Regions from separate parts of the Homo sapiens genome. Here all the other regions are linked to region 3. Evidence: fine-mapped expression QTL. A gene starts in region 3. Each other region holds a variant in brackets. All regions are shown on one strand. Distances are from middle to middle.

Region 1 (8,000 bases), 450 kb after region 3:
GACCAGGGAGGGGGGAGAATAAGCCCTGCCCTATCCCCAGGAAACCAGGGGCTGCCCTGGCCCTTTGGAAAAACCTGAGGAGCAGCCTGAGGCTGTGGCCTCCCAAGACTGTGCACAGCAAAGGTAGTTTCGCTCCAGGCCAAGGCTGTTGGGCCAGCCTGAGCTGCAGGAGAGCCAGCTTAACCCTCCAGAAGTGGGATGAGCCCTGGTGGCTCCCAGGCCACTCACTCAGGTCCCTAGTGCTGCTAACCCTCCACTTACTGCAGTGGAGGCTCACAAAGGGCTGTTATGTGGGAGCAGAGAACTACTCAGGAGGAGCTTCTGGAATCTGTCCGTGGCTCTGGTTTGCAGGTGTCTCTTCAGTTGTTACCTTTGCCTCTAGGCCACAGTGGGAGGGCAGACAGTGTTAGAGTGCACATCCCATCTCTGTGGGGTGGGTGGGGTCTTCCCCTAGGGCACGTTCATTCACTGGATTGATGGGGGCACTTGGGGATGGAGCTGCCGCATGGTAAGCCCTAGGGAACCACGGGCTACCTAACCCCTGAGGGCACTTCCCAGACTGCCAGAGAAGGGTTGCATCAACCTGTCTGCACATACCTCTTCTAGTGGAGACCAAGGTCCCCAAGATCAGGAAGGTCTTTGGGGCCCACAAGATGCAGCCAAAAAAAGACAGGCCTTGCTGACAACCTGGTCATTTTCAAACGTGGCAGAGTTTGCTGCTTGGGCACCACCAACCCCTCTCGGGCCTGTAGGCATGGCCACTGTTGAGTATCTGCTGTCAGTGACGGCCTGCGAGATGGGGAGCTAGCACGCTGTCTGACACCTCCCCTCTCCACTTTGCCACACTGCTGCCATGTTAGGAGGCTGTCTCCGTGAGCCTGGTGCCACTGCTCTGTAATTCACACTTGCCCCTTGGATGTGAGCCCTTGCGTGTGGCATGCCACAACACTCAGGTCACCTCAAGGGCCCTGAAAAGTCTTGGGGTTTGGAGAGCAGATACATACAAGCCTGCTTCAGCATACCCACAGCAGCCTAGAGCTTTCAACCAGCCCTGGGGTGTTACGCTGCCCCTCCTCCCTCCCCTCCACATCCAAACACACCCCCTCCAGCATCTAGCATCACAGAAAGGTTAACAGAAAATGTGCTAAAGGGCTAACCATACGGCCTCTCTCTCTCACTACACACACACACACACACACACACACACACACACACACACACACACACAAACAATACTGGAGTCTAGGGTATTCTGTCTTAAGGTAGTGATTTTCAAACATGGTTCTATGGACTGCAAAGGCTCCTGGGAGCAACCAGAGCCTTTGGGGGTGGAATGACAAGAGGCTGGGCAGCCAGAGCCCTGGGTCCCCAACTCCTCCTCATCCAGACCAGCTCTACTTTTATTTCTTATATATTGTACTTCGGGTAAGATTTTACAGGGAAAAAAAAATGTCTGAAAACAACAGCTCTTAGGTAGCCATTCCCAAGAGAGCTGATCTTCAGAGTCCTGTAGGGAGCTTTTAGACATTTGAATTCCCAGGTCCCATGAGCTCAGAATCTCTAGGGGAAGGGCCTGAGAATCTGTATCTTTGAAGTTCTGCAGATCCCACCAATGGTCCGTAGGCTTGGGAGCCAACAAAGTGGGGCACCAGAGTGCCAGCCAGCTCCTCGGGACCCACACAGAGGGACAGAGCACATCTCACAGGTCAAAGGACCAATGCTGAGACGTTTGTGTTGTACTCAGGAAGGAGAGGCGCGGATGGAAACGGGAGGCAGCGACAGTGGGAACACTAAGTGCACATCAGGCCGAGTGCAGGACGGGAAAGAGCAGTGTGAAGATAACACCGAGCACACAGCACCCCGCCCTCCTGGGGGTGCACACCTGTGCATACAGTTTCTCTCGTCAGAGCTGGAAGGCTTTGCGTACAAGATGGGCCGGGGCTGCAAGCATCTCCCTGGCGGGCAGGGGAAGAGCAGGCATTCTGGGCATCAGAGGGGCCATTCAGAGAGACGCCAGTGGTGAGGCTGAGAGGGAAAGCAGGGGAGTGTCCCCACCTCACCCCAAGGCACAGAGCTTAGAGCAGCCCTTCTCAGCCCCATGCGTGCATTACACTCACTGGGGAGCTTTAAACAAACACTGATGTCCAGGCCCCACCTGAGCCAATGAAACCAGAATCTTTGGGAGTGGAACTCAAGCAGCAGCATTCTTTTTTTTTTTTTGAAAGGCTCTGGGGAGGTCTGAAACACAGACAGGGAGAGCCTGGCTTTAGACACCATCGAGGCCAGTGGCTCTCAGTATGGACACTGGCCCGGTGGCACCAGCATCATCTGGAAACTTGGGAATTCTTAGGCCTCACCCCAGACTTACCAGTGCAGAAGCATTGAGGCTGGGCCCAGCCATCTGTGTCAGCACACCGGCTTGGTGGTTCTGAGGTAGGCTAAGGCTGGAGGGCCACTGCTCTAGGCTGAGGGTCTTCAAACCGTGGTTCTAAGGGACACTAATATCTCTCTCATCACCCTGTCACTGGCAGTGACAGAACAAGCGGCTTCCCAGGCTGTCCACCTCTTGACACTCCTAGCCTCAGGGGCTCCACTTAATCTTTTTTTTTTTTTTTGAGACAGGGTCTCACTCTGTTTGTCCAGGCTGGAGTACAGTGGTGGGATCTTGGCTCACTGCAGCCTTTACCTCCCGGACTCAAGTGATTCTCCCACCTCATCCTCTTGAGTAGCTAGGATTACAGGCACACACCACCATACCTGGCTAATTTTTTTGTATTTTTTAGTAGAGACGGGTTTTCGCTGTGTTGCCCAGGCTGGTCTCGAATCCCTGGACTCAAGCAATCCACCCGCCTCGGCCTCCCAAAGTGCTGGGATTACAGGCATGAGCCACCGCACCTGGCCATCCTCTATTCTGTATTTTGGAGTTCCACATCAGAATTTATTGGGGGTAAAAATGTCTCTTTGATTAAAAAAAAGTTTGAGAACCATCAACCCAGTTCAACCCACTTATTTTATTTTATTTTTTTTTTGGTTGCGAAACTCCAAGTCCAGCAAAGGGAAGTGGCTTGCCCAAGGCCACAGGCCGGTCTCAGAGGTGAGACCAGCCAGGAGAGCCTGCCTGTGTCCCTTCACACCCCGCCTCTGTGGCACTAGTGTATGTTCCTTTTCTCCCACAGGTTGACGCCCTACGAGTGGTACAGCCCACACCCATGTGCCCAGGGCCGGTGCAACCTCCTGGTGAACCAGTACTCCCTGGGCAACAGCCTCTGGTTTCCGGTCGGGGGGTTCATGCAGCAAGGCTCCACCATCGCCCCTCGCGCCTTATCCACCCGCTGTGTCAGTGGCGTCTGGTAAGGCCCCAGGCAGAGGTGAACCAGGCCAGGTGGGGTGGGGACACAAAAGGGGCCCTCTGATAAGCCGGCTCTAGCTTCTAGAGCCCCAGAGCCTCTGCCTCTTACAGCAGACCCACGCAGGAAGCCGAGTGCTTTCTGCCAGCTCAGAAGCTTGGGGCAATGGATGGGGCCTGCTCTGTGCCATCTGGTCCCCTTCCCCTTACTCTCTGGGGTCTGGATGCAGAGGGGAGCCAAGGGAGGAAGGGAGAGGAGGTGACAAAACAGCCTTGATGAATTTCAGCAAAGCAATGGTAACTTCCTGACCTGAAAATGACCTGAGGTTTGAGAAGGCATATGCAGATTTATGCAAGTATAAGCCTGCTGGCAGGAAGTCCCTGCAGGAGGAAGCCAGCCTGGCTGCTACATCACATCCCCTCTACCAGCCTTCTGAGGCTTTGTGTCTCTGCCTCTGGCTCTGGGGGCTTGCTGGCCTGTTCACCTCAGCAGGTGTGGGAAAACGCAACTCTTGTCGTTCAGAGTTGAGCAAATGATTCAATGTGTGGGAAAGCTCTTTGAAAACTTGAAAGTGCTACATAAACATATGGACTGATCATTGTTATTAGACCATTATGGGGGCAAAGGAAAGACAAAACAAATGTGTGTGTGTGTGTGTGTGTGTGTGTGTGTGT[G/A]TAGCCTAGAGAGGCAAGTTTGCAGAACACAACTTTTTGATCCTCTCTTAAAAATCTGCTGTGGGTTTGGCTGTCATAGCATACAGGACTTACGACCTTGGTTCTCTCCCTTCCTTCTCAGCCTGTTTAGCCAAAGGAAAAGGAAAGGTGATGTTTCCACCCTTGAGTACTGGTGCCCAGAGTGGGTGGTCTGGACAGAATTACTGGAGGAGCCACTGGGCTGTTAGGAAGGTGAAAACGCAGCTGAGATAGCCATGCCTTCCTGTCTGGGGTTTCCATTATCCCTGATAAACAACAAATGTAGCACGATTTAAACCTGGGCGAGATGCTTGCCTGTTACCAGATAGTTTGGAGAAGTCACTGAATGGATCACCATGGAGAACAGGAGCTCAGGTCTCCAGGAAGAGGGATGGACGATCTCAGCAAGGAGAGTCACGGAAGTCCCACCCACAACATCCGGGAACCTGGGCAGAAGCCCTGGGAGAGGAGCATCGGGGGATGTCGATCTCCTTCTCCCTGGGGCTTTTCCTTCTGGAGAGTGCCTGCTCCCACAGATGGATGCAGCTAGAACCCCATTGCCCACTTTATCCGCTTGTCAGCTCTACCCTTACCCCAGGAAATCCCTCCTCCAGGACCCAGCCATCCTGCAGGTTGCCCTGCCCTGAGGGGAGGACTCAGCGCTGCTTTAAATGGCTGGCCCCAGGTGGCTTGGTCACTGTTCCAGAGCTGTGTGAGAAGGGGCTCAGCGCGAATGCAAGCCGCCGTGACAGGCCTGTGCCAGCCCCGACTCCAGGTGGTCACTGCGCTTCTCTCCCAGCACACTAACAGTTCCTAGTTCTTAAATCAGGGCCTCGGTTTGGTCCGTTCCATGGAGGAGTGGGAGGTCAGAAGACAGGGCCATCGTGGCCTACCTCGACCTCCTCACCCAGAGCACGTGATAGAAAACACCATGTCGCTGGAGAGAATGCCAGTTTGACAACTGAAAATGCCCTTTGACACAGGAGCGAGGCTCCACTGAGCCCTCCGGAAGCGGGCATCATTCCCTTTCTCAGCAGAGCCGATGGGTTTGCACTGAGCCGCTTGTGCCCTCTGACCAGTTTCCTTGTGACCAATGGCCTAAATAGCCACCTGGTGTGTAGCCAGAGTGTAGCCAACTCTGAAGTCATGTCCACACCTAGGGCTCATTAACCCCCAGCACACACCACCACAGCTAAGCAGCTGCAGAGTGCTGGCTTCCTCCTGGGGACTGCCCACCCCAGGTCTCTGTTTAGGGATGGTCATGAGAGCACCTTCCAATAGGGCAGAAGAGCTGAGGCAGGAGCAGGGAGAGCAGACCTTGGGCATGGAGGGATACCTGCTACTTACAGGTCACAGATAGGGAAGGCAGAAGGAGGCAGCCAGGTGATTTTCATCCCATATTCAGTCTGATGGTCTCTCTATACATTTCTCTATATCTCACATCCCTCTAGTCCTTTACAGATTGCTGATCACTCATGACATATTACTTCATTTTATCTCACAACTCTCCAGCAATAGGCAGAGCAGGCATGATTATCCCCATATATTTATTAGACAAGTAAATGAGCTCAGAGAAGGCGAGTGGTTTTCCCCCACATTCTCACAGTGGAACACAGCCAGAACCAAAACCCAGCTCGCTCATGGTGGTCTGCCATGTAGACATGCCCACTGAGTCAGAGGATGCCCCTGTTGCTTCACTCCTGGGGAGGCAGCCAGCAAGTGTTCTTGGTCACAATGGCAAAAGGGGCAATGGGACCTGCTGCTCTTGAAAATCTACACAGCAGTGGCAAGTTGCCAAGTTCTGTGTGTTAATCACTATGCATTCATCGTCAGTGTCTCTATGATGGATAAAGCCCCATGAACTCAGGCTCCACTGATTCAGAATTTGTGATTCTCCATCCCAAACTGTGCTTAGATCTATCTTTGAGCCCCTTGGGATTGGGATGTAGATCCATACTGTTGACCAGATGGGAGAAGGCTTGTTTAACCTACTAAAATGAACACACAGTTTTTAATGGACTTAGCATATATGCTGCCTGAGCTGCAAAATTATTCTAATTTCAAATGAGTTCTGTCTACTCAGTAAAACAATCTTCTAATTTGAAATAGCATGACCATTGTAAGAGTATTTTCTAATTCCAGCCTTTCAGCAGTTCAAAAGTGCTTTTCGCCAGGTAGTCTTTATTAAAGATGTTCTGTTGTTACAATTTACAGAACTGGTTTTAAAATACAAATTTATCAGCTGGCACAGGGGCTCACACCTATAATCCCAGTACCTGGGGAGGCTGAGGCAGGAAGACCACTTGAGCCCGGGAGTTCTAGGTTGCATTGAGCCCTGATTAAGCCACTGCATTCCAGCCTGGATGACAGAGCAAGACCCTGTCTCCAAAAAAAAAAGAATTTATCGGCCAGGTGTGGTGGCTCACGCCTGTAATCCCAGCACTTTGGGAGGCCAAGGCGGGTGGATCACAAGGTCAAGAGATAGAGACCATCCTGGCCAACACAGTGAAACCCCGTCTCTACTAAGAATACAAAAATTTGCTGGGCATGGTGGTGCATGCCTATAGTTTCAGCTACTCAGGAGGCCGAGGCAGGAGAATCACTTGAATCCACGAGGTGGAGGTTGCAGAGAGCAGAGATTGTGCCACTGCACTCCAGCCTGGCAACAGAGCAAGACTCCGTCTCAAAAAAAAACAAAGAATGTATCACTGTGTTACTTGGCAGGTTGCTTCACTTCTCTGAGCCTCAATTTCCTCACCTGTAAAATTGGGATAAGAATTTTGCTTCCGTGAGCTCTAGGGATTAAGTGAGATAGTGGATGTAGCTCGTGGTAGCTGCTCACTGCCTGGCGATGCACATTTGAAGGTTGGCTTCAGCACGAGGAGGTGAGGAAGCCCTCCTGCTCTAGCTCTGAACAGAGCCCTTGGAGCTGGCACCCGCAGCTCATTCACTAGCTCATTTCTCACAGTCTCCAAAACTGTCTCATGTGCATGGACTACACCTCTTTTGAATAATAACCCAATAATCATCTCCTTTAGGAAATAAGAAAAACAAATCAACTGTCTTCTTCCAGGCAGTGCTCACAAACGCGATTCATTTCTGTTGACATCATATGCCCTGCCTCCTTTCTCTTCCCCCACTAAGCTGAAAGCTCTTTCATAAGAAAGATGCCTGGTCTCTCCCATGTCACAGCAGGACTGGGGTCAGGGGCCAAGACTCCAGGGAGTGCCCGGGCAATGATGACTTCCTCGTCTTTTCCTACATAGGTGGGCATTCACGCTGATCATCATCTCATCCTACACGGCCAACCTGGCAGCCTTCCTGACCGTGCAGCGCATGGATGTGCCCATTGAGTCAGTGGATGACCTGGCTGACCAGACCGCCATTGAATATGGCACAATTCACGGAGGCTCCAGCATGACCTTCTTCCAAGTAAACCCCATTTGGTTGCTCACCAGCATCGGGAATTGGGCAGAATAAAGTTGAGATGTTTCTCTGCTGGAGATAAAAACATCTCTCCGCATCTCATTATCTCTTTTGAACATATAGTTTGGAGGTCCACATGGGGCTCATTTATCTGCTGCTCCACAAAATACTCCTGGAATGAGGTCCCAAAAGAACTTTGCGTTAATATCAGCCGGTGCCAGAGTGGTGGTACTTGAGATGATTTTAGGTCTGATGTGGTGGAACTGTTTTTTAGTTGCCATAGTTTCATGTTTATATTAATGGCCATTAGAAAAAAAGTATATATATGCAGTGAATCAAACCTGTTGTTTTATTTATATTACTGCATAGAATGGGGTTAATGCATACATTTACATTTTTAAAGTGATTTAAATCGTATAGGTAGTATTTAGACAGAGCAAGATTCATACATGAATGACTGAAGTTTGAGGAACACCAGCTTAAGACGAACTGGCTTCACTGATTCCAGACTTGATAGGTATCAGATAGGGACCCT
Region 2 (8,265 bases), 86 kb after region 3:
CCCCCTTTACTCCTGTCTAAATGTCGGATGTCCCAAGCCTTGCCCCCCACTTCTCTAACTGTATATTCTCTCTGAGTGAACTCACCTATTGCCACACTTTCAATACCATCTATACAGTGATGACCTCCAACTTTCTCTCCTGAGTGCTGTTCTAGCAGTTCCATCTATCTATCTACTTGACTTTTTCATTTGAATATCCTCCATATATCCTAAACATGGAAAACCACTTTATTCCTCTTCCCAAATCTGTTTCTACCTCTTTCCCCATCTCAGTAAATGGCACAATTGTCCACCAGTTTACAAGACCAAAAGAATGGGAGTCATTCCTGATCTCTCCGTTCTCTCACTCTCCACATCCCATACCCCACCAAGTCCTGCCAATTTACCTCCAGCAGGTGCCTCAAATTTATACCCTTCTCTCTCTCCACTTGCCCTGCCACCCTTCAGTCCAGGCCACCACCATCTCTCCTCTGACCTAAGACAGTAGCCTCCTAATTGGTTTTTCTCCTTCCACTTCTCTTGTTCCTTGTTCTTCACACAGCACAGCATTTTAAAAACTATGCATTTCAAATACATCATTTAAATTGTTTCATGCTACTCTTGTGCTTCAAACCTTTCAGTAGCTATTCATTACCCTTAGAATAAAATCCTGCTGGGCGCAGTGGCTCATGCCTGTAATCCCAGTATTTTGGGAGGCCAAGGCCGGCAGATTGCTTGAACCTAGGAGTTGAAGACCAGCTTGGGCAACATGGTGAGACCCCGTGTCTTAAAAAATATATATACAAAAATTAGCCAGTGGCATTTACCTGTTGTCCCAGCTACTCAGGAGGCTGAGGTGGGAGGATCGCCTGAGCCTGGGAGGTTGAGGCTGCAGTGAGCTGTGTTTGCACCGTTGCACTTCAGCCTGGGCAGCAGAGCACAACCCTGTCTAAATAAATAAATAATAAATAAATAAATAAAATCGTAACTCTTTGCCATGCCTTATAAGGCCCTTGTAATGCCGTATAGGGTATGATCTGGCCCATCTAATTCTCCAGCCTCCTCTTGCACTGTCTTCTTGATCAGTTGCCTTCCTAACAGCTGTTTCCTCCCATCTTCCATGTCAGCAGAAGCCTGATTTTGTTCAGATATAGGGTACTTTTCTTCCATGAAAGAGGTGGTGGTATTTTCAGGGAAGGTGTGCCCTCCTGTGATTCACTGCAGTTGGGCCACGGTTAATCCAATTCACTCATAGCCGTACCATGACTCCATTGCCACTGATTGGGGTAAGTGGTGGGACTGAAGAGAATGTCTGCTGGTGGCTGTGGGAAAGATGGGCTGCCCTCATACGAGAGTGACTCGTGAAGAGGAGATGCCTGCATGCGTCCTTCCTGCTTTAGGGGTGTCGGAGGGTGAGGAGCCACCCCCAGCGAGGGAGACACTGTCCACATACCGAGGAAGGCAGATGGAAGGAGCAGGCCTCTAAAGCCACAGATGAGTTTCAGGATCAACCACAAAGTTGCCATCCTCCTCTTCAAAGGGATAATGAATGCCTTTATGGTTCCAGCCACATTTAGGAAGGCCGTCTGTTGCATGTGGCTGAGCACATCCTAACCAGTATCTTTCCTCCCGCTCGCTGTGTTCCACTCTCCCTGGCCTTGCAGCCCGTGGTCGTGCTGTGCCCTCTCCTGCCTCGGGAGATGTGCACACGCCATTCCCTCTGTTTGGAGCACTCTTCGTCCTGCTTTTCACACATCCTTTAAGTTTCAGATTGTTTTCACATAAAGGTTTCTCTGCTGTATTATTTTCTTTATGTCTGCTTCTTGTTAGTTTCATCCACAGCCCCTAGCACATTTTGAAATTATTTTTTCGGTATACTTTTTTTCTTCCCCTCTAGACTGTAAGTTCCATAAAGGCAGAGACTGTATGTATTTTGCTCACCTTACAAGGTGCATGGCAGAGGGAAGGTGCTCACCACCTGTTTACTGACTGAGGGCGTGAATGGAGGAGTGGTGCTCATCTTCCTGACCTTATCCTCTGCTGCTTGATGACCTCTCACAGTTTCTACTTTAGCCACATGGAATGGTGGTTTCTAGAATGTTCTTTAGTCTCTGTCACTTTTTAGTCTTTGCATATGCATCTCAGTTTGCTGGAACAGCTCTCCTCCTTCACCCAGACACCTCCCACTCTTCTGTAGGTCTCAGCTGAGCTTCCACTTCTTCCTGGAAGCATCCCTCTGCTGACCATGTGCCCTGGGGACACTGCTCTCAGCAGGCAGAGCACCTCCCAGTCTGCACTGTAGGCCCCTGATTGCTTTTGTATTTATTATTTCTATTTTTCGAGATGGAGTCTTGCTCTGTTGCCTGGGCTGGAGTGCAGTGGCGTGATCTCAGCTCACTGCAACTTCCACCTCCCGGGTTCAAGCGATTCTTGTGCCTCACCCTCCTGAGTAGCTGGGATTACAGGCGTGCGCCACCACGGTCAGCTAATTTTTGTATTTTTAGTAGAGACGGTGTTTCATCATGTTGGCCAGGCTGATCTCGAACTCTTGACCTCAATAATCCGCCCGTCTCGGCCTCCCAGAGTGCTGGGATTACAGGCACGGGCCACTGTGCCCGACCGGGATGGCTTTTTTAAGTCACCGTATCCCTAGCATGCAGCCTGTAGTAGGTGCTCAAAAAGTATTTGTTGAATTAGTTCCTTTGATTAATATTTTTGAATGCCCACTGTGTGTCACACATTGTGTGAAGTGTTGAGGTTATAAAGATGAAAAAGAAATTGTCTCCATTCTTACATTCTAGAAAGGGAGACAGGTCTATTAACCAGTAAAAAAAATGCAACGTGATGAGTGTGGGAAAAGAGGCTGTGGGAACACCGATGAGGGAACAATGAAATCTTCCAGGGAAGTAGAAGATGGGGTGTTAGGGAGCGCTTCAGAGAGAGACTGGAGAAGGACAGAGTGGGGTTCAAGCCAGCAAAATTATTTCCAAAGGGGAAGGATGGATGTCTGTGTCTAGGTGTGTATGTCTATGCCTTTATGTCTATGTGTCTACGTTGAAGTCTATATGTAAGTCTCTATGCCTAAGCCTCTGTCTCTCTATAAAGCATATGGAGAAGGGGCCACACTGGAGAAGTAAGGGAGAGTATGTGTAGGGAAAATGAGGGCAGAGGGTCTGAGAAGGGGCTTCAGCAGTTAGACTTGTTTTTGTTTTTTTTTTTAGACAGAGTGTCACTTTGTCGCCCAGGCTGAAGTGCAGTGGCGCCATATTGGCTCACTGCAACCTCCGCCTCCTGGGTTCAAGTGATTCTCCTGCCTCAGCCTGCCGAGTGGCTGGGATTACAGGTGCCCGCCACCACACCCAGCTAATTTTTGTATTTTTAGTAGAGACAGGGTTTTACCATGTTGGCCAGGCTAGTCTTGAACTCCTGACATCAAGTGATCCATCCGCCTCGGCCTCCCAAAGTGCTGAGATTACAGGTGTGAGCCACCGCGCCTGGCTGAGATTTGTGTTCCATCCAGTTCTCCCCTCACTTGGGGCTTCTATATATGTAAGCACTGGGGGCCTCAGGACCCCTGGCTTAGTCAACGGCTGCTCCCAGAGCTGGGAACATGACAGCTTCATGCCAGGGCAGCCCCAGGTAGCTTTGTTCTTGGGCCCCTGGATGCCAGAGGCAGCTC[C/CA]ACTCACCTTGCGGGGCCGCTCCCTCTCCACCTGGGTTCCAATCTGGTTCTGCTCCTTACCTGCTGGGTGACGGGGCAAGTGCCTTCCCACCATGATGAGGAGATGATGTTTCCCGCAGAGGGTTCTGGGGAGGATGCAGTGAGATCATGTATGCAAAGCACCCCTCTTGGGGCTGCACACGGTGGGAGCTGGGCAGTTGCCAGTTCCCTCTCCTTCCTCTCCCTCCTTGGCTGACTACCCAACAGGTGAAGATCTGACCTGTTCTCTGACCGAGCCCCGGGCGCCCCCAGCTGAGCCCCGTGGCAGGCAGCAGAGTCTCAGTGTCACATAAAGGCAATTTCTCTAGCTGATTCTTTTTAAAGAACAAAAAGCAAATTGCCTCTCAGTCTTACTTGGCTGCCTCAGCCGTGCGCTTTGCCAGAGTGTTTGCATTCAGGGATCCGTGGGGGTCCTGAGGTGGTGGGCCATGCGTGCTGCCTGTTCAGTGCAGCCCCCCGCTTTGTCTGATTTCCTAATACAGTGCAGCATTCGAATTTTTCTCTAAGCATCTGAAAGCGAAAGGGAAATTGTGACTGTGGATGAGTCCCTTTTAGCGACCTCTGTGAGATCTCCCCAAAGTTGTTCTCCAGCCCAATTAGAAACCTGCCTGACTTTCAGGAGCGGGAGTGCCTGCCGTTGAAGACTCCTGTTCCGAGCCCTAATTACTGCTTGATGGAATGAATAAAGACGTCATGTTTTCTGCATTTTACTTAGAGAGTTGCTGATGCGGTGAATGTTGGATGAAACGTCTCTTTCCTCAGAGAGATTAAAAACTAAGTGCCTCAGCGACAGAGCCAAGCGGCTGTTTTAACAACAGACTTCCCCTCCTGCGCTCCCTTGGCCTCGCAGTTGGAGCTGGTCTGGGCCCCTTCTGTTCTTTCCACTCTTCTGGAATCAAGGTGGAAGATGCCTTGACCATCGAATTTGACTGATTAAAAAAGAGACACAAGCATCTGTTGAGCCCTTGCTGTGCATCCGACTTTTTCCATCCATTCTCTCATTTCTTTCTCACAGCAGCGTTATGAAACGGCTTGCTGTGCCCCTTGTGCAGATGAGGAAACTGAGGCTCACAGAGTTAGTGTCTTGCCCAAGGTCATCTGGATAGCAGGTAGCAGAACGGTGGTTTGAATTCAACCTCCAGTGCAGAGTTTGTGGTCTTTCTCCATCGGCTCCAGGGACATTTCCTGGCCTGCGTGGTGGAACCTGCCCACCCCCTGAGGAGCCAACCAGTTCTTTTCCTTGACAGAGAATGGCACGGTATAGTGGTTAACTCCCACCATATGACAAATCTCCCCAAAACTTAGTGGCTCAAGACAATGAACTTGACTATTATTGATGGCTCTGTGTTTGGCTAGATGGCTCCTTTGGTCTTGGCCAGGTTGTCTGGGGCTGCAGGAACTGGGATGGCCTCCCTCAGTATCAGCTGTGGCAAGGACCACATGGCCTCTTATCTTCCAAGAGGCTCGCCCAGGCCTGACCTCTTCCTCACACATTCTCCATGTCCATGTAGATGTAGATATCCATTCTTCCTCTTTGAAAGTAACTGAGCTGGCTTGGACCCTGTCTATCTTGCAGAAGAGGGAAGCCTGATGCCTAAGTACTTTTTACATCCTCTGTTATTTCATGTCTGTTAATGTCCGGTTGGCCAAAGGAAGTCATATGTCCAAGTCCAGACTCAAGGGATGGATAATGGACTCCTTCTCTTGATGGGAGGGGCCAAGAAGCCCCATTTGAAGGGGTGTGCCTGCAGGAACGAGGAAGGCTTTGTGGTCATTCTGCGTTACTGCAAAGGGTAACACCCACTCTTCAAAGGCCATTTCACAGCTCCTGGTCCTGTAAACTAAGGGTGTGGAGAGGGGGCTTACTGAGCTTCCACATCTGGACGGGATATCACGAGGCTGTGCCAGACAGATGCCTCATTTTGTTTGTTTGATGCGTGTGTTGCTGTTTTTTAAACACGCAGAGAATGTGAAAACACAACTTCCCTTTTGAATTGATCCTTGTTCTCACAACTAGTCATTACCTTTCATGATTGTTATTAATATTTCCCTGGACCAGCTGCTGCAGATGAACCTGGAGTGCATGTTTGGAGTTGGTGGTGGGGAAGGTCCCTGTTCTGGGCTTGAGGCTCCAGGGATGGAGGAGGGGACATTGGTGCCCCATGCCTGCCCTCTTCTCAGGCTCACAGCATGCCCTGGTTTCTCCACCTGGACTTAACAGAGTTTCCGCCGTTATCTGGGAGATGAAGACCAGAGGGTTTTAGGCCCTTTGAAGGAAGGAACGGTTCAGAAGAATGAGTCAGTGATGGAGTCTCTAGATGTCTTGCCAGCTCCATCTCTGCTACTGTATTCTCAGCCCCCTAGCCTCCCTCTTGTGCTTCCAGGGATATAGTGCCCCGTTTTCAGTGCAGAAAGTACTTTGATCAGAGGTTTGTGAAAACCAGTTTCAAGGCTGCCAGCTTTGGGTATTCCTGGGGTGTGGGCCTCAGTTCCAGGTTGCCCTGAAACTCTCCTTTCAGCAGGGAGAGAAAAGGCAGTAGGAGCTACAAACACCTTGGGCCTTGTCCCCAAGCTCAGCCTTCTTGGGTGACTCACCCGAGCAAGGAGCAAGTCAAACTCAGCACAAGGGAACCCCTGCCCCAGAGCCCGTGACATAAAGGTGAAAGAAAGGCTTTTGGTGTCTCTTGCAGCCAGAGTATGTTTGAACATTAGAGGCTGGTTTTAGGTTTGACGCTTTCTCATGCTGGCATGAGCACCTAGCATGGGGCCTGGCGCATCAGAAAAGCTCTAGAAGCGACCTTGCCATCCGCCCACTCTGCAGGTGGCCGAAGCCCTTGGGTGGAAGGTTCCAGGGAGAGTAGTGCTGGCAGCCCTGATTCAGGTGTGTTTGGGGAAAGGGAAAGGTGAGACCTTCAATGTGGGAGCCCCTAAGGCCTGCAGAAAAATGAGACTCTTAAAGCTGCTCCTCCCACAGCGGGAGGGTACCTCCACCCACCAGGCTTCCGGCTTCTCAGCGTGGCTGATTCCTGGTGCACTGTCAGCCTTTATGGGTCCCATTAGGGCAAGAGAGTAAGAGGTTTTATGGGAGTTTTTCCCCCCTCTGTCTTAAAAAAAAAGAAAACTAGAGTTTTCCTGCGAATTAAACAAATGTCAAATCAGCTTTGGCTGCCTGAATGGCAGCCTTTCAGAGGCAGTGCCTGAGGCTAACTCAGGGAAATGGGGTTCCTGCTCTCTGGGCCTCCCAGCAAAGCCCACCTGGTTTTTGTTCTGCTCTTTGAACAGAGGGCTGAGGAGGGATGCTGGTCTTTGTTTTCCTCCCACAGTCAGGACTGGAGGAGATCCTAGCCAGGAGTGCAGAGGCAGGGGTCTGGGGACCCTCTCCCCACCAGGAAGATCTTCAGGGGTTCTGGGAGTCCCTGGCATTACAGGCAGCATCACAAATATGCATGGAAAGTGAAATTGGAAGGGGTAAATCTGTAGCTTTGTTCTGATTCTCAAAGAGGTCAGTGACCTTCAAAAAGATTAAGAACTCATGAGAGGCTGGGCATGGTGGCTCATGCCTGTAATCCTAGCACTTTGGGAGGCTGAGGCAGGCAAATCACTTGAGGCCAGGAGTTTGAGACCAGCCTGGGCAACATACTGAGATCCCATCCCTACAAAAAATACAAAAAGGTGTGGTGGCATGCGCCTGTAGTTCCAGCTATTCAGGAGGCTGAGTGGGAGGATCACTTGAGCCTGGGGAGATGGAAGCTGTAGTGAGCCGGATCGTGCCACTGCACTCTAGCCTGGTGACAGAGTGAGACCTTGTCACAAACAAACAAGCAAAACTCATGAGAACTATTACAGCACCCACATTTTGGACAAGAAGAACTTGGTCCAGGGGCTGGGTGTGGTGGCTCACGTCTGTAATCCCAGCACTTTGGGAGGCCGAGGCAGGTAGATCACTTGAGGTCAGGAGTTTGAGACCAGCCTGGCCAATATGGTGAAACCTCATCTCTAGTAAAAATACAAAAATTAGCCAGGCTTTGTGGTGCACGCCTGTAATCCCAGCTACTGGGGAGGCTGAGGCAGGAGCATCACTGGAACTCGGGAGGTGGCGGTTGCAGTGAGCCGAGATTGCGCCACTGCACTCCAGCCTGGGCAACAGAGCGAGACTCCATCTCAAACGAAAACAAAAACAAACCCCAAAAGAACCTTGTCCAGGAAGGTCTACACAGGGCAAGTGACTTGATGATTCAATTCACATAGCACATTAGTGGCTGTTTGTTTAAAGATCAGGTCCCTCTGTTTAAGGCGGGGTGTGGGGGGGCGCAAAATTGAGGAGGGGAGGCTTTTTCTCATTTGCAAGCAGCTTGTCTCATAATTGACTGGTTTTTTTTTGGTTCTGTTGTTGTTGTGTGTGTGGTTTTTTTTTTTTTTTTTTTAAGTTGGAATCACTCCCAGAAGTAAAGGGGCTGAGATGAGCAAAATAAATAAGGAATAAGTAGGCTCAACGTGTGGGGGAAGTATAAAATACAAAGTGACTGAGTTTGGGGTGAAAATGACTCAGAGCTGAATGGGAACAGAAG
Region 3 (8,265 bases):
TTAGGATTTCATCTGACTCATCTGGACAAATGACAGGAGCAAATCCGATTTGCCAGAACTGTAGACCTCATTAACCCCTTCTCTCTATTGGTTTATCCATTCAACACATTTACTAAGAATCTCCTATGCCAAGCACTGTGTGGTTAATAGATTTTTTTTTTTTTTTTTTTGAGCTGGAGTTTCATTCTTGTTGCCCAGGCTGGAGTGCAATGGCACGATCTCAGCAACCTCTGCCTCCCCAGTTCAAGTGATTCTCCTGCCTCGGCCTCCTGAGTAGCTGGGACTACAGGTCCCATGCCACCACGCCCGGATAAGTTTGTATTTTTAGTAGAGACAGGGTTTCTCCATGTTGGCCAGGCTGGTCTCAAACTCTGACCTCAGGTGATCCACCCGCCTCGGCCTCCCAAAGTGCTGAGATTACAGGTGTGAGCCACTGTGCCCGGCCAGAGATTTTTTAAAAAGCCTATAGTCTAATTATGAACTTGAGATGAACCTTCAAGGGACCTTTGGAAAAGAAATGGTAGGTAAATTTAAGATCAAATATCTGATTTGCGGATATACCTGAGGCAAATACAAAGAAGGGAGAAGCTAAAATATAAATCCAGGAGAACAAGCTCACAGTCTATTAGTGAGAGCAGACGTGAAACAAGTAAGTGACCATAAACTCTAACAAGCACAAGAGAGATCCCGAGAAGGGAGTAATTACTTCTGTTGGGAAGGGACTAGATAGCCAGGTATGATAAACTTCTAGTAGGAGAGGTTCCCAAACAGAATTCTGAGCGGTTAATAGGAACTTGTGTATCAGTGTGTATGTGGGAGGTAGGGTGGGGACTCTGGGCAGAATTCAGTGTGTTAAAGGCACAGAGGTATGAAATGGGATGAGCAGAGAACTCAGTGCTGCTTGGTACTGACTGAAGGTGAGATGGACAGAAATGGATGATGGGTGAGGTGGGGAAGTAAGCAGGGAACTTGTATGCTGTGCTAAGAAGTTTTGGACTCGAGGCTGGGTGCGGTGGTGCACGCCTGTAATCCCAGCACTTTGGGAGGCCGAGGCGGGCAGATCACGAGGTCAAGAGTTGGAGACCAGCCTGGCCAACATGGTGAAACCCCATCTCTACTAAAAATACAAAGGTTAGCCGGGCGTGGTGGCGGGTGCCTGTAGTCCCAGATACTCAGGAGGCTGAGGCAGGAGAATCGCTTGAACCCGGGAGGCAGAGGTTGCAGTGAGCCGAGATTCCGCCACTGTACTCCACTCCAGCCTGGTGACAGAGGAGTGACTCCGTCTTAAAAAAAAAAAAGTTTTGGACTCAATATGAGGTCATGAAGGGGTTTTCAGCAAGGGTGTAAAGTGGTGAAGCTTGTTTTAGAGACATCACTCTGGCAGCCATTTGTAGACATATTGGAGGGAGCCAATTTAAAGGCAGGGAGATGAGCTAGAGGGCCGCTGCAATAGTTTCTAAGACATGGTGACATGATATGATATGTGCCACTCAGCAAGGTGACAACAAGTCACCTGCTCACCGTGTGCCTCAGCTGGCCCCATTTATGCAGAGGGATCATTATGAATGTGTGATGAACCTTCAAAGGGACCTTCGGAAAAGACATGGCAGGTACATTTAAGATCAAATATTCTTCTTAGTGGATATACCAGAGGCAGATAGATGGAAGAAATTAAAGATAAATCCAAGAGAACAAACTCCTTCCTGTGCGCTCCGACCACCATGGCGCCCAAGCACAATGAATCCTATCCGTCCTGCACAGCATAGCAGCTGGCTGTGAGGGATGTTTCAGATGAGAGGTTCTAGAGGTGGGAGCCCCATTTCCCAACCCTTCTGTTTTTTCATTCAAGGCAGCAGCCTCAGAGTAGATCAGCGGGGCCAGCCTCGTGGCCCTCTGACATTCTCCCCCTGTGGCTTCCAAAAAAGATCTGGACTGACCTTCCCACCCCTGGAGCTGAGCTTGAGAAGTCAGCTTGCCTGGAATTGAATTTTTTCAGTAGTAAAAAAGGTGGAGAGCAAGTAGTAAGTATCCCAAAGAACTCAACATCTTGCAGCAAGGGGAGACAGGAGAGTGGGTGGGGGCAACCAGGCTGAGGCTAACAGCAGACTTCTGTACCGGCAGACTTCGCTGACATTGTTGTCCACCCTGTGACTGGTAGGGACTCCCTGCTTCTAGGGGCAGAGGCCTTAAGAAAGGAAAAGAAAGTCAGAACCATTCTTGCAAGAAGGGGAGAAACCAGGGCCCTCAGGAGGCCACAGCCAAGACTATCTCCAGAGCCATCAGCAATCTCTCTGACCTGCCAAAAGCTCCTCCCCGCTTCCCTGGTTAATAGGATGAGATCACCAGGCAAAAGAATATGATGAAGCATTTCACTTATATAGTATTTTTCTTTCCAAACACTTAATAAGCCTCTCTGGTCTCGCTGATCTTGCATTCTTCCCGTGAAAGGGGCCAGGGATCCATGCTTGGCATTTCAGAGTTTGCGCGGCTTGAGAGATCATCTAGTCTGCTTCCCTCACTTTTAGAGTTATGGGAACTGAAGTCCAGGGAAGTGAAATCGCTTGCTGGGATCACAGGGATGCCTCTCCCTCCTCCCAGCCCCGTACACTTTCTGCTAGGCTTATGCTGCTGTTCCGTCCATTTTGCACAAGAGAGGGGGTTCCAGAGTGGGGGAATAGAGTTGGAATTAGAAATTAGTTTTGTGTCACTGGCTTACAGGTGCTCTTAAACCTTAACAGGTTTAACATCCTCTGTAAAATGGGACTAGTGTCACCTCAACACCTACCTTGCAAAGTTGATTATTGGGAATCACACTTGTGTAAGCGGTATAGTCTTGGCAAACAGTAGGTGCTAAATAATGTCTGGCTGGAGGAATGGAGCCCTGTTCGCATATGGCATTCATCCAGCCAGTGTGTGGAGCTGGGGGAGGGATAGGCACGACTCCTGAAGCAGGAGGCCCAGTACGCGCCCAGGCTAGCCAGCCAGCCCTCCCCGGGGAATGCAACGTCCAGAACAGTCTATAGTCCCGATAGTATGCCTCATGCGTGAGACCTGACCAAGGACGTCTGTGAACAAACCCTTCACAGAGAGCTTAATGAGATTGTGGGAGTGCTGGTGGTTGGGTGTGGGGATACAGGCCATTGAAGGTGAGAGGGCCGGTGTGATCAGTTTGGTGGTCTGCCCAAGACAGAGACTCTGCGGGTTGGATAAGAGGGAGCTAATAGGTTTGAGGGGGTCACGTGTCCCTTGCCCTCCCTCCTATTCCCCCAGGACTCCCTCTTCACCCAGCCTCCTCCTAAGGGCAACTCTGTTGTATTAGGATGAACCACACGGTGTACTGAAATGAACCGCGCGTCAGAAAGCGGGGTTGCCTCCTGGGTCCTGCCACTTGCTCCCCGTGTGTTCTTGGCCTGGTCCCTTCACCTCTCCTAGCCTCAGGATCTTCATGCGTAACATGAGATCCTCCCAAGATGTTGGTATGTATACAACAGTGCTCTGGAATGACTCCATGCAAGCTGTTGCTCTTCAGTCTCCTGAACAAGGTGCTCTTGTCTCGTCCCATGAAACCTCCACCTCTCCATCTTCCGCACCACTGAGGCCGCAGTCTCTTCTAACGGGGCACGCTCGTCCCCCGCGCTGTTTCCCGAATGCCACCAGGGGGCGCCCCTTGCTCGCTGAAGCCGCCGGGCTAATAACTCCTCGGGGCCGGGGCGGGCTGCCCCTTTGCGCAGGGCGGTGGAGTGTGCGGGCTGCGCCGGGTTCCCCACCTGAGGTCCGTACCTCGCAGAGCCCGCTTGGCCGCGCGCCCCTAGCCTCTGCCGGGCGCCGCTCCCCAGCCGGGCGCCTCTCGCTCGGCCCCGGGCCCCCGGGCAGCCGCAAGTTTGCCCCCGGCCGCGCGGACCCGCGCCCGCCCTGCCCGCAGCAGCCCCCGCCGTTCCCGCCGCCCCCGCCGCCCCCGCGCCTGGGCTCCCGGGCGACGCTCCGAGGGGCGCTGGGGGGCGCGTGCAGCTGCCCGCGGGGCTCCGGCCCGGCCCCGAAGGGGCGCCCCCCCGGCCGGCCGTGCGCGGGGCCGCAGCAGTTCCCCAGCTGCCCGCCGGGCGGCGCCCCGCGCCTCGCTGCGCTCCTCCCGCGCTCCCCGCGCCGGGCTCGCTCGCAGCCGGACACAGACTGCCTTCAGCTGCGGGCGGATCGGGCTGGAGCCGCCACGGCTGCTGCGGAAGAGGAAAAACGGCCAACAGCAGCCCCGCGGCCGGCCCGGCAGCGCCCGGCCCCCGGCTCAGCCCCCGGAGTGCGGAGCCGACCAGGTAAGGGCAGCGGCCCCCCGCGGCGCCCCCGGCCCGCTCCCTGCGCTGCCCCCGCGCCCCCGAGTCCCCTCCGCGCTGGCCCTTCCCGCACCCCGACTTCTGACGTCTCCGCCGCTCCTGCCCTCGGGGGCCGCGGCCCCGCACCCCTGCCCCGGCCCCCGCCCCCGCGCCCTCCTCCCCGCTCCCGCCTCCCGCCAGCCCGGTCCCTGGCACTTCGGTCCCTGCGTCTCCAGATTCGCCGCCGAACCCCCCACCGCTCTGCTCCCGTAGTTCCTCCAGTCTTCACCCCGGTCCGTCTCCCTCCCTCCGCATCCCTTCCCCGGGCTCGCGGTCCTCCCGCTCTGGTCCTCCCCCTCCCCGTGCAACTCCCAGCCCTGCCTCTGTCCCCTGCAGGGATGACAGCCCCTTCCCAGCCTGGCGCGTCTCCCCTACACCTCGTCACCCTCCGCTTCTCCCAGCGCCTCTGTTCCCCGGCTGCAGCCCCCCATCCCGGCTCAGCCTGGCATCCCACCAAGCCCCCTCCCCCTTTCCTCACTGCCATCTGCCTCGACTGCCCCCTGCCCCTGCACTGGACTCGGGCCACCACCACACCCCCCCACCCTGCACACCGCCTTGCTTGGGGGAACCAGCGTCCTATCAGAAATGATCCTCTTTCCCGGGGAGAATGGGGCTCCCACCCATCCCACCCTAGTTCATCCGAGTGGGAAGTGAGGGAGAAACTCTAGAGACCTGCAATGGGCGCGTGATGGGGGAGGGGGCTGGGGCGGAGGGGGAGGGGAGCTGATTTAGATTCTCTTCAGTGAGGACTGGCAGAGCTGTGCGCTCCGACCTGGCTGGGGTGGAGGGCGTGCAGGCGACAGCTGGGACAGGGGGTTCAAGGCACTGAGAGCACCTGTGTCTCTTTCCCTGGCTCCCTTGAGCTGAGCAAAGTGAGGGGAGGAGTTGGAGCCTGGGGAGAGTTGGCTGAGGGCCTTGGGGTGGTGGAGGAGGCGGCCGAGGGGGCTGGGCCCCGGGCGCCTCTGGCCCGTCTGCCTGGCAGTGGTGGGGCAATGCGGGCCGAGCCACTCCCGGGCTGGACCTTGGGCTGCGTGGCTCTTGGCATCTGTACTTGATGCTGCCATCTTCCTCTTGGTGCTGTTGTCTGGTGATGCCACGCGGTGCCACCTCCCTGCCTCCCTCCAGTGGCTCTCCTGGGCATGTCTCCCAAGGGTCTGGGTTGTCTGGGAAGAGGAGGGGAGCTCTGAGCACAGCTGGGCCCTTTTGCCAGGCAGTGGGCAGCTGTCAAGACCAGGCCAAGAGGTCTGAGGGCTGGTCAGGAGGACTGAGCCCTGCCAGGAACAAAGAACTACCTTCACTTTCACTCCCTATGGGTCACCTGGTTGGTAGTGACACTTCTAGGAGCACCGGGAAACTGCGGGCGTGGTATCTCCGGGGAGAGAGGCCGCCTGGGTTGGTAGTGGGCATCTGAGAGACAAATCCGGTCCTGCCTGACTCCCTGACTGTCTGTGCTCGCGTGGTCAGGGGCGAGGGGCTTGTCGAGGTCCACTGTGTTCCGGTCCCACCAGGGATGGCAGCCCCTGGAATTCCACTGGGCGTCATCATGCTGGCTTTATTTGCTGAAGCTGCAGCTCAGGCTTCATCATTAATCAGGTTTATTATTTTTCTCACTGGCCAGATGTGTTCCTCAAGGTCACGACCCTTCGGAGAGTTAATCTAATATGCACACATTACAGTGTCTGGGTTTGTTTAATTTTCCATATTTTGTTCATTCCTTGTGGCCCGGGCTTGCCCACCAGCCTCCCGCCTGCCTCACCAGCTCCACCCCTCTGTCCTCCTCTGGACCTGCCACCTGAAACCCAGAGGCAGCACTGGTCCCTCCGGGTGGGGAAGAGGTGGATGCTCGGGAGGGGAGGTTGAGAGGGGATCTTGGTTTTCTGTGTTTTTCCCATCCCCCTACCTGGGCATCTTGATCGGTGGCTGCTGTCTTCCCCAGCAATGAAAATTCTTCCGAGAGCCTGGGTCGGCTTCGTGGTCTGATTTCCACTTTGGTTTTCCCTTAGGATGGAGAGGGAACTTTAGTACCGGGAGAGAGGCAGAGACTCTAGGAGAAAGTCCCAGCTGCAGGGAGTCAGGGCATCCAGGAGAGAGGAGCTCAGCTGCTTCTGAGGTGGTTCTCAGCCATCCAGAGATGGAAGGGAGGACAGGGGGACCGGCCCTGGGTTGGGGGAGAGACTGCTCAGAAGGCAAGAGAAGCAGCGAGGCGGAAGCTGGCCTTTGTGTGGCTGGCGAGGGTGGGCAGCGCCAAGCGTGTGTGGGAAGGATGCATCTCTTGGTGCTTCTGCATAGTACTAATCCCTTATGTGTGTATGGGGTTCTGCAGCATTCCAGATGCCTCTCAGAACAATTACTTCATTTGATCTCTACTACAGCCCTGCAAGCATCTGATCGCTCCTTACAGACAGCCTTATAAGGAGGCATTCATGACCCAACAGAAACTGAGGCTCAGAGAGGCTGGATGCCTCATCCAAGGCTCCACAGCTGGGTCCCAGGCCCCTGGACGCTCAGTCCAGTGCTGTTGGGCTCGTTGCTGTTGCTTTTTAAGGTCTCAGCTGTTTGGTTCTCAGAAAGCCCACCCTTGGTCCTGCCTGTTCCTCAGTTCATCCCCTTCGCCCTCTCCAGTGATGGCTCACCGTTTTCACCCCCACCCCAGGCCTGGTGGAGTCTTTGCTCTGTAGTCTCCTCAGCCTTAGACTGGCTGCCTGGGTGTCCCGCCACTCCCTAGACCCAACCAACCACCCCCTACCCCAAGTGGGCACTGCCTCTTGCCTCCTCCTTGTGGAAAGAACGGCTGGGTTCCCCCAGGCATGCAGCCGGGGTGCCTGGGGCACCCTCCTTCCCTCTCTCTGGTGCCTTAGGCCTCAGCCCACTCAGTTCTTCTGGGCACTTCGAGTGTCCACTCCGACCTTTGCTCTCCCACTGCCGTGGTCCCTACTTGGGCCTTTGGCTGTTCACCCTGAGTTACGGTCCTGAAAGCTTCCTTGTTGGGCCTCCAGCCTCAGTTTCCAGCCATCCTGCCGCTGTGCCTGTCTTCTTACAGAGGGTAACGCTTCTCACAGGGGACCCTGTCTCAGCAGCCGTCAGTGGCAGTGCCTTCCAAGATGCCTTGCAGGTGAAGGCCCTCTGCACGCTGACCCCAACTTTATGTCACAACGTGGTGTCTGGCATGATCTTGTCCCCCCTCCCCTGGCCACCCAGCCCTGGCACTGTGTGTCCTCACCCTGGCCCTTTGCATTTCCTCCTCTTTTCCTCCCATCCATATATTGCCCAGCCTTCAAGGTGCTGCTGGAAGAGGAACCAGTTCCAGCTACCAAGTATCAGGCAGACCTGGGTTCCTGTCCTCACATCACTCCCTGCATGACCTCGGACAAGTTGCCTCACCTCTCTGAGCCTCACTGCCCTCACCTGTAAAATGGGGACTCTGAGCCTCACTGGCCTCACCTGTAAAATGGGGATAAATCTCACCTGCTTCAGAGGGTTAGCAGCATGGAATGTGAGTGGGAGTGTGACTCGTCCAGTGTGAAGGGCACCTGCATGGGTATGGAGGGCACATTCTCTGAGTGGCCGCCTTCTGCTCTCCCTCTGTATGGGCTGGCTGAGCCCCCTGCTCCTACCTGGTATTGGTAATCGTCTGTCCGTTTGTCTCCCCACCCAGAGGGCAGATTCCTGGAGGAGCAAGGCCTTTGCCTGACACCTTTTCACATTCTCTGACTCCCAGCAGAGCGAGGCTGTTCTTCAACATCCTGTAAATCGGCCCTCTTCATAGTAAGGACATAAGATATAGTTGTTGCTTGATTATAACGTTCTGTTACATAAAATAGGGTATGCCTTACATTTAGTAAATCCAGTATGAACAAAAAACTTATGCCACAGTTGCAGGCTGGGTAAATTATGGGAAGGAAGG

Which allele goes with the higher level. Positions count from the first base shown, and alleles are read on the strand shown. Sizes are in standard deviations (SD) of each study's normalised expression. Not every link is listed here.
For the expression in thyroid of the gene that starts at base 4,165 in region 3, allele CA in region 2 goes with a lower level than allele C (small effect, 0.30 SD a copy in GTEx).

What was found. PIP is the estimated chance that this variant, and not a neighbour inherited with it, causes the effect.
Region 1: its variant is fine-mapped to the expression of GRIK4 in whole blood (INTERVAL, PIP 0.97).
Region 2: its variant is fine-mapped to the expression of GRIK4 in thyroid (GTEx, PIP above 0.99).

Annotation. Positions count from the first base shown.
Region 1 is chr11:120,953,604-120,961,603 of GRCh38, forward strand. GRIK4 (glutamate ionotropic receptor kainate type subunit 4) reads left to right here. Exons shown (of 21, transcript NM_014619.5): 16 at 3,177-3,350; 17 at 7,306-7,471. It overlaps LOC101929208 (a long non-coding RNA gene), which reads right to left and starts at 4,436. Exons shown (of 3, transcript NR_133004.1): 1 at 4,355-4,436. RefSeq lists an enhancer at 1,897-2,397 and a silencer at 4,922-5,143. The variant G/A (reference allele first, on the strand shown) is at 4,022.
Region 2 is chr11:120,593,546-120,601,810 of GRCh38, forward strand. The region is part of intron 1 of GRIK4 (glutamate ionotropic receptor kainate type subunit 4); the gene reads left to right. Among named protein-coding and RNA genes, the nearest start is that of GRIK4, 86 kb to the left of the region's middle. The variant C/CA (reference allele first, on the strand shown) is at 3,659.
Region 3 is chr11:120,507,584-120,515,848 of GRCh38, forward strand. GRIK4 (glutamate ionotropic receptor kainate type subunit 4) reads left to right here and starts at 4,165. Exons shown (of 21, transcript NM_014619.5): 1 at 4,165-4,304. RefSeq lists silencers at 3,776-3,855, 4,036-4,235.